Linked DNA regions of Homo sapiens: region 1 is reported to be linked to region 2. The links are microRNA targets in miRTarBase. Many come from high-throughput screens and were not tested one by one. Region 2 holds a microRNA gene; the other region holds the end of a gene's coding sequence.

Region 1 (5,480 bases), not on the chromosome of region 2:
CAGCACGGCCTCGCAATGCAGTCGGCCTGTGTGGTCCTCACCTTTGCACTCTCCTCTTCCTTCATTTCCTATTTTTGTTTGTATTCCACCAATCCCTTTTCTTGTCTTGCTACAAGAATTCTTGAGAGAGATCTGATCAAATCATTTATAGACTGCAGCCTCCAGCTGTCTGTGAGCAATCCGTCTACTGTACTGAAGATAGCATTCCTCTATGTTTTCTTGCATGGAAAGCTAATTTCAGAAAGTTATATTTAGTAACACTAAGCAAGATGTAACTGGATGACTTGCAGGAGGGAAAGTATATGCAAAAAGTGAATTTTTAATTCCACGATTTCATCCAGTTTATTCCAAAAAGTCACACAACCCCAAAGATACATACTAGACTTCAGATTGAGAAGAATTTACCCAACAAATATTTATGGGTGCCTAGTCTGCGATGGGTGACGTATAATTAAAAAACTGGAAAGAGAAATAAACATCTCACATCACAGGAAGGAGAGGCTGCTTCATTAAATAAGTCACTCTTTGTCCACAAAGACTTAGAGGGCTCTGGACAGTCTCTGCATCGATGTCAGCAATTTTCCAATATTTAGGTAATGGCAGTTACAGAAATCAGACAAACCCAAAGTCCCGAGACTCCCTAGCTATGCTTCGCCTGTTCAGAACATGGTACGTATTTTGCTCAACTGAACTAGGCTGTTTTTATATTTTGGGATCTATTCTCATACAAAAAAGATTGACGGGAGGAAGGTGGAACATTTTTAAAGCCATACAATTGACTCTATGGTTTCCCAGGTCTCTCTTTGGGCTTAGATTACTTAATATCTTATAATCATTTTTAAAAGTTCCAAGTTGAAGTTGGAACCACTGTCTCCAATTTAACATTCATTTAAGCCTGTAGTCCCTATAAAAGAATAAAACGTAAGATTTAGAAGAGCAGAGAAAAATAAGATCTAACCCACTGAAGACATGTGAAAGTAGTTTTCAAACAGAAAGCCATGGTTACCAATTTGTTTGAAAGCCAAGCTGAGTTTTGTCCTCTTTTCTAATCTGTTCTTTGGCATCTCTGTAGCTATGCAAACAACTCTAGAGCTTACCTGTGCCCACCCCAGCCCATGCCTCCATGCTCTCCTATCTGGGTGGCCACACCACCATCTGGTTCCTCAAAGCCTCCAACTCCTGCAGGAGCCTGCTCCGGGCTTCCATTCCTTCCCCTCCCATCCCGGCAACCAGAGCGACAGCCACTGACATCACCTGGGTGGCCCCAGCCCCTCCTAGAAACCCTGCAGAGGCTTTGCACTGCGTGAAGAAAACAAGTCACATTTCCTGCCATGGTCTTAGAAAATACACTCTTTTACCACCGGGTAGTGCCAGGTGGCCCCTGGCTCTCTCCAGCCCCTGCCTGCACCCTCCTGTTCTGGGGCTCTGGCTCTGGGCTCCCCTGATCTTCCTGAGGTTCCAGCTTATCTGCCTCAGGCTTCTCCTTCCATCTGCAAGGCTTCTCAAGATCATCACTTTCTCAAAACAGCCTACCATCTCCCAGGAACTTTATTAGACCTCCAGGTGTCCCCTGCACTTCTTTACTGTTAACAGTTACTATGTATCTGCATATGTAAATGGAACATGTGCTGCTGCCTCCTGGAGTGATGCTCCCTGGGGGCAGAGCCACGCTGTTTCAGGACAGCAGGTAAGCGCTGTGAGACCCGTCACCATCACTGAGGCAGGAGGCACCCGCAGGCTCCCATAAACATCTGCTGAATTAAACAAGAAACTAGCTTCAATTCCCAATCTCAAGTCTAGTATGTCTCTTTTGAGGTTATGTGATTTTTGGAATAAACTGGATGAAATACTGGAAATAACAAAACTATCACTTTTTGTACATCCTTTCCCTCCTCCAAGTCACTCGAATTAAATTTTGCTTAATGTTTACTAAATATAACTAAATCTTTGAAATCAGTTTTCCACTCAATAAAGGATAGAGGAAATTGTGTCCAACGGCGCACACCAGAAAATGATCAAGTGCTTGCTGGTCCGTATGACAGACCACTGTAGGGCAGTACCATTATTTCCACTGACAGCAACAGAAACACAAGGCTTGAGGAGAAAAAGGAATCTGTAATAATACTCAGACTTCCTAAGTTTTTGTATTCCCAAACATTAAAGTCCCCTTTCAAGCATTAAAATATAGTAAAAGTGAATACTATAGTTCTAATACACAAACATCTCGTTCTATCAAAAAGGTCTCCACAAGTTTCTACAACCCTAAGACACACTCCTTCCTTCATGAACGTCCTTATTTTTACAATACATGGACTACAGTCACCCTGCTGTGCAGCACATGGATCTGAAAACCTATTCCTTTTGTCTATCTGAAACTTTGCATCCTTCAACCAACAACTTCCCATCCTTTTCTCCCCCCATGAAAGCTCTAAAAATTCTCCATCCCTGCCCTGTCCCATCCCCCTGCTCACAGGCCATTAAAAGGTCCACTGGAAATAGGCAGAGGCAGGAGATGGCGCAGAGGCAGCGCTGAGCCCTGTCCACACAGAAGGTCCCGCCCGCACATGCCCAGGCCTCCCGCAGCTCCCAGGTCCTCACAATGTGACTTGTGTAGTTTTACAATCAAACACACCCTTTTACACGAGGCCGTCCCGAGTGGGTTCTTGCACTAGGACGCTTCTCACCAGGATGCCTTATGTACACCATTTACTTATTACTACGGATATTTTATTTCAAAGGGGCCACCAAGAGACAGTGTCACTGAGAAATGGCTCGAATGCCCACCTAAGCTTGCTGGGATCAAGGAAGCATCAGGAAGGCCTGGGCAGCAGAACGGCTTATGAGACTCAGACACCACCCGTGAGCTGTGTGACGAGGCACACGACACGTCCCCACAAATGAAAACCACTGCCTGACACAGAAATCATACTCAGTAAGTGTTTAATGAAGAAGAGACAGATGGAAAGAGATGGGCGAGGAAGGCTGATGTTACAAATATAAACTTTGTCAGCACTTTCAAAACAATAGCAAATACACTTAAATACATACAAAGTTTATTAAAAATAGGTTGCAACTGAAATACAGTAGAAATGGAAAACTACAGCAGTTTTGATGTTTTCTCATAGTAATGCAGTTCTGAAAAGCACTTTTACACATATTCACATTTGACCTCACTGCCCAAAGATGGCCAAATCCACTTGTGTATGGGTTTCACAACCACACATACAAATATCCCTGTATGTAGATATTTACATGTATCTGCATGTTCTCCTGTGTATTTTTCTATATATTAACAGAAAAGTAATTCATCTGCATCTCTTTAAAGAAAGTGTGGATTTAGTCACCATAAGGCTGCCAGTGTCCTCAAGATATTTGGGAGGTGCCTGCTTTTCCTAGAACTTCTGCTGCAAGCAAGCAAATCCTTCCTAAACACTCAGAACCATTCACTCTCTTACTCAAACAAGGAAATGGTAAGAGCACACTTTCAAATAAAAACCCTGATAGAGGTAAAAAAAAATATTTACACTCGCATTTTTAATGATTTATCATACAACTTTTATTAAAAGTGATTTCGAAGGCAGTAAAAAGCCCCTATACCTCTCTTTGAAAGTGTGCCTATTTTCCTAACATATGTAAGAGAACATTCTCTTTGAAAATGTGTCTATTTTCCTAACATACGTATGTGTAAGAGAACATTCTCTTTGAAAGTGTGCCTATTTTCCTAACATACGTATGTGTAAGAGAACAATATGGTACAGAAAAATCATTTGGACTCCACCAAGGGCTTTGTCAAATAGAAAATTTGCTTGTAATCACAAAGTAATTTATCATCTTAACACCAGACAATATAAAACACACTGAGGTCCGTCTCCCCAACATCAGCCACATATCCATAGCTGAAGAAATGACAGTGGTAACTAATAATTCAACAAATTAAAATTAAATAACTCTATTATAGTATAAAAATAGCTTGAACTTCCATATGAGTTATTCTTACAATATTTAAGTTACAGATGCCCTGTAACTGAATTCCTTCCTTGACGGCATACAGATGAAAATCGATTTCTTTTTCAAATTTAAAATTTCTGAGTGACAGCTGTGCTTGAGGGGTCCCTACTCATCTCCCATTCTTCTGTCATTCCCAGTCACATGAACATTGCTCCAATAAAGATATCTTCTTTTACAGACGCCTTGGAGCGAAGTATTAGTGAACTTTCCAAGGTAACTGTCATCTTTAAATTTAACAGTGATTTATTAAGTCTAACAATAATCTGGTATTTATAAAAATAAAATCCCCTAAGCTTAAATCCTCAAAATTTTCTTTCAGAATTAAAATTAATCAAATATTTAGAATTGATCAGAAGAGCTCAAATTTGCGAGGAATGAGATGGAACAGTCTCGGACGTGCGTCATCACACAGGAAGCTTTGGCCTAAGCCACTTCACGATGCAGACTAGAAGGATATTGTGGGAACAGACACCATCAGGGGACATGGGAGGAGCATGTCGTCATATGTTCCTTCCCGGGTAGAAGAGCGTGTGGTCACTACTAAACAGTGCCAACAATAGTCTGAATAGTTCAAGCTATTCTCTGCTTGACAGCTAAAATAAAGTTTCTGAAAAAAACAGAAACAGAACTTCTTTGTGCTCCTCGGTCGATGATGAGGGGAAGATGGGAGAGAAGACACATCCATTCTCTTCTCCTGCCCTTAGTTCTGTCCCCTTTGAACTCAGGACTCCAAAAAAGAAACCAACAAAAAACTTACCCTCGTGTGAGTTAGATAATTAAGAAACTAGACAGTGTTTAAATTACATAAATGGCAATCTCATGGTAAAGTAAAATAAAATTTCTTGGAATTGAAACATTTCTAAATCCCAACAATTTTAGAAACAGAAATTGTAAATCACTTAGAAATATAACCCCCTTCCTCTTTTCCTCTTCAAACTCGCACCTACAAACCCACAACTGAAAAGATTTTGGGGTAAATACAAAGTGTTCTCCTCATTTTCTTTCACTTTGTGTTCAGTTCATTCTCCAGTTCTGTTAATTTACGAGAAGCTTTCACTTTATTGGATACATCTTGACCTTGTGAAAAAAGACGCTGGCGTTCCTTGAATGTCAAGTTTTCAGGGGCCCCAGAACTTCCAGGTGAATCTGCATCTTGGCTGCAGAAGAGGGCAATATCAAAGATTACTGGACAAACTAGAAACAACCTGTCAACAATTACACACGTTTGCAAAATGGGCGATTAAAATTTTCACTCATTCTTTGTTAAATTGTGCTATAACCTTTCTTATAATCGAAATCACAGGGGCTGTATTTAAACCCATCTAGAAAAAAAGGGCAACATGTTCTCTTGGCTACAACATTAACTTTTCCCAGTCATAGTCAACTCTCAAAAAACTTGTAAGTTAGATTTTAGCAAGCAGGTGACTCTTACCAGTTAAGTGTAACCTGAGGGGTACAGTTTTAAAATACAG
Region 2 (3,000 bases):
TGGGCATGGGTGGCAAGGGGCTGAGCCAGGGCAGTGGATGAGTCAGGAGTATGGGAGGCTGGGCTGCTGATCAGCGACTTTGCAGATCCTCAGGGTCATTACTTGCTGTTGTTGCTGGGGAAAGTTGCAAAATGAAAATTAACTGTCAGAGAAGATTGATTCGTTTGATGCCTAACCAGGAGCAGCCTTTTATTGCTGTAAAATGTTGATTTCCTCTTGCCTGCAATGACAGGTGAGTGTTAGTGGCACTGAAGGAAGACAGATCCCTGAACAGAACTTGCAGAAACCATCCCCTGAGGGGCTCAGCCCTCTTCCCTCCAACCTCTATGGCTGCAAGAGCAAGAATGAGTGTCTGATTTTACTCATGGGGTGAGAACACATCTGTGGGTGTGCCAGCCACGTGGCAGGGCTGGTGGTAAGACCTGGGGCTCTGGATTCAGACACATCTGGATTCAAATCCACGCTGGGCCACTTAATAGCTCTATGCCTGTGGGCAAGCCTCAGTGTCCTCATCTGTAAAATAGAAGGGTCATACCTAATTAAGTCCTAGATTTTAAAGCACTTGGCACAGTGCCTGGCACAGGTTATCAGGGCTGGGTCCAGTTGAAATGATCAAATGCTGCTGAAATTCAGAACTCGGATCACTTTTGCAATAGCAGCCATCGGTCGGGGGCAAGGATGGGACAAAGGCAGGACAAGAGTCAAGAGAGGGAGCCGTCAGAGAAGTGGAGTGGGAGGTGAACGAGGATAATTTGTTATAATGGAACCATGCCTGAGGTGGGGGTATGGGAGCTCATGCCTATGGGGGGCCGGGCAGGGTGGGCCACTCAGTCTGCAGGCCTGGGCCAGGCTAGCTGCTCAGAAAGGATGAGTAGCCCAGGTCTGTCCCTGCCCAGTGTGTGGCCAGGGGAGCCTCTCCGTGCCCATGCCACTTGTCTTGCTTAAGTGTGGCTAGGAAGGAAAAGGCTGGGCAAGTGCAGCTCCTGCTTGGCTGATCCAGGCCTTGATGGCAGATAGCTATGTTCAGAGAGTTTCCTGGGGGCCGGGGAGTAGCCCTTCTCCTCTAGGAGCCTCTTGTCAGCAAGGAGTGAATTTGGCTGCAGGTTGGAGGGCTTCCTCGTCTGCAGGGCCAACCAGGAAGGGGCGGCGGTGACACAGACGAGCGTGTGGGAGGTCTCTGTGTTGGGCGTCTGTCTGCCCGCATGCCTGCCTCTCTGTTGCTCTGAAGGAGGCAGGGGCTGGGCCTGCAGCTGCCTGGGCAGAGCGGCTCCTGCATGGGACATGGCTCTTCTCTCTGGTTACAGACTCACCACTTCGCTCCCAACCTACCTCCACAGTCAGCGTGGGGCATCAGGCCAGGCCCTCCTGAGCCAGAGAAGATTGTGGAAACCTTGCTCTCCAGGTGGAGTGGCCAGCCTCTGGGAGGTGTTCAGGAATGGGCTCCTAGAGAGTGTGGTGAGCTCAGGCTGGATCTGAGCTGGGCAAAACTGCTTCCAAGGGGGGCCCACATCCAAGGGACTGAGTGGTGGTGGGATTCCTCCCTCTGGGGTAGTCTCCAGCCTATGGGGCAGGGGTACAGGGTACAAGGGGCAGACAGATGTAGGGAGGACAGGCAGGAAGTTCCAGCAAGTTTCCGGGCCAAGGAAATGTTGTAGAGAACCAGAGGATGATAGGAAAGAACAAATGAAGGACAAATGAAAAGGCCTGGCCAGGCTCCAGAGTGGGGCGTGTTGAAGTCTGAGGGTCATGGGTCTCACCTGTTGGTGGGGCTGGGCTCTTAGCTCCAGCGTGGGGTGGTACTGCAGCTGCTGGGATGGGAGAGGAGGGTGCCCAGCAGTACCTTCTGTGGGTCAGCGTGACTGGCAATGAAAATGAGGTGAATGAACATCCCAGGAGCTCATGCTGCCAATAAAACACCTGACCCGGCAGGTGGGCAGCCTGGATTCGGCTCCCAGCTCTGCTGTGAACTTGCAGAGGCTCCTGGACAAGTCCCTTCCCCTCTCTGGCTTTCTGTTTGCTCCTCTGCAAAATGTGAGCCAAATATTTTCAAGCAGTGGCACTCTTTGTTCAAATGAAATATTCCATGAAACCCACTTTTCTTAACTTAGTGAAGTGGGTTGAGGTGGGGAAACCCAGTGGTCTAGCCCATCTCCAAAGCCTACTTCCAAACATAAACAATTGTCCTAGATTTTAAAAATTAATATTTTAAAACCAACTCTTATTGAGCACTTGATATGTACCAGGCACTGTTCTAAGCACTTTATAAATAGTGACTCAATTCTCACAACCCGAGGGGGAGGGAGGTGGGGAAACAGGCATCAGAGGTGAGGTGACATCTCAAGGTCCCACAACTAGTGAGTGGCACAGCAGGATTCCAGCCCAGGCAGTGGGGTCTAGGACGGGGTTTGGCCTCTGTTCTCGCTGCCTGTAGGTGCTGGCGAAGGGGGCGGCTTGTTCTGCAGGTGAAAGGCCACGGCGCCCACGTGACTTGGTGCTGCACGCTGGAACCCCGAAGTCAGTGTCTGGGGAACCGTCCCGTTGGGCCTGGATTCTGACGAGCTGGGAGAGGCGGGATCCTCCCCGCTGCCGTCTCATTTCCCAGCTGGCCCACCGCGGCCCCGCCACTCCAAGGCCGGTTTACAATGGCAACGTTGCGCGCCGTGGCGCGAAGGGAATTGAATGCGGGAGCTTCTCCGCCAGGCACACACTCTAACCACCAAATTTATTTAAGCAGATAAAATGCAGGGGGTGTAATGTCAGATTAATGGATAAATAACCGTTCTGGTTTTTGGCACGATGACGGGGAGCAGTAGTGAGAAGCCTCATTATGTGCGGCTCTGCCTCGAAGAACAAGCCTCGTGCTGCAACCCCAGCACCCGGGCCCGCGAACAGAGCATTAAATTGTTGGAAATGGCTCCCCTTCACTCGCAGAACAAAGATGTTTTCTCCAGAATAAATTGACTCCCTCCCAGCGCGCTGAGCCCTGGTTTCCCACAAACG

What was found. Region 2 holds the annotated microRNA hsa-miR-346 (UGUCUGCCCGCAUGCCUGCCUCU, at 1,192-1,214, shown strand). A microRNA usually pairs through its seed, bases 2 to 8, with sites in the 3' UTR of a target mRNA and lowers its output. Matches are read on the target gene's strand: a 7mer-m8 pairs with bases 2 to 8, a 7mer-A1 pairs with bases 2 to 7 and ends in A, and an 8mer does both.
Region 1: the mRNA of AFDN is a reported target of hsa-miR-346. The part of its 3' UTR that is shown has no 7-base or 8-base seed match.

What each region holds. Positions count from the first base shown.
Region 1 is chr6:167,969,467-167,974,946 of GRCh38, reverse strand. AFDN (afadin, adherens junction formation factor) reads right to left here. Exons shown (of 34, transcript NM_001386888.1): 34 at 2,924-5,165. The coding sequence ends at 5,012. Among named protein-coding and RNA genes, the nearest start is that of HGC6.3, 7.6 kb to the left of the region's middle.
Region 2 is chr10:86,262,961-86,265,960 of GRCh38, reverse strand. It overlaps MIR346 (microRNA 346), which reads left to right and starts at 1,173; the gene lies at 1,173-1,267. The region is part of intron 2 of GRID1 (glutamate ionotropic receptor delta type subunit 1); the gene reads left to right. RefSeq lists enhancers at 1,154-1,654, 2,032-3,000.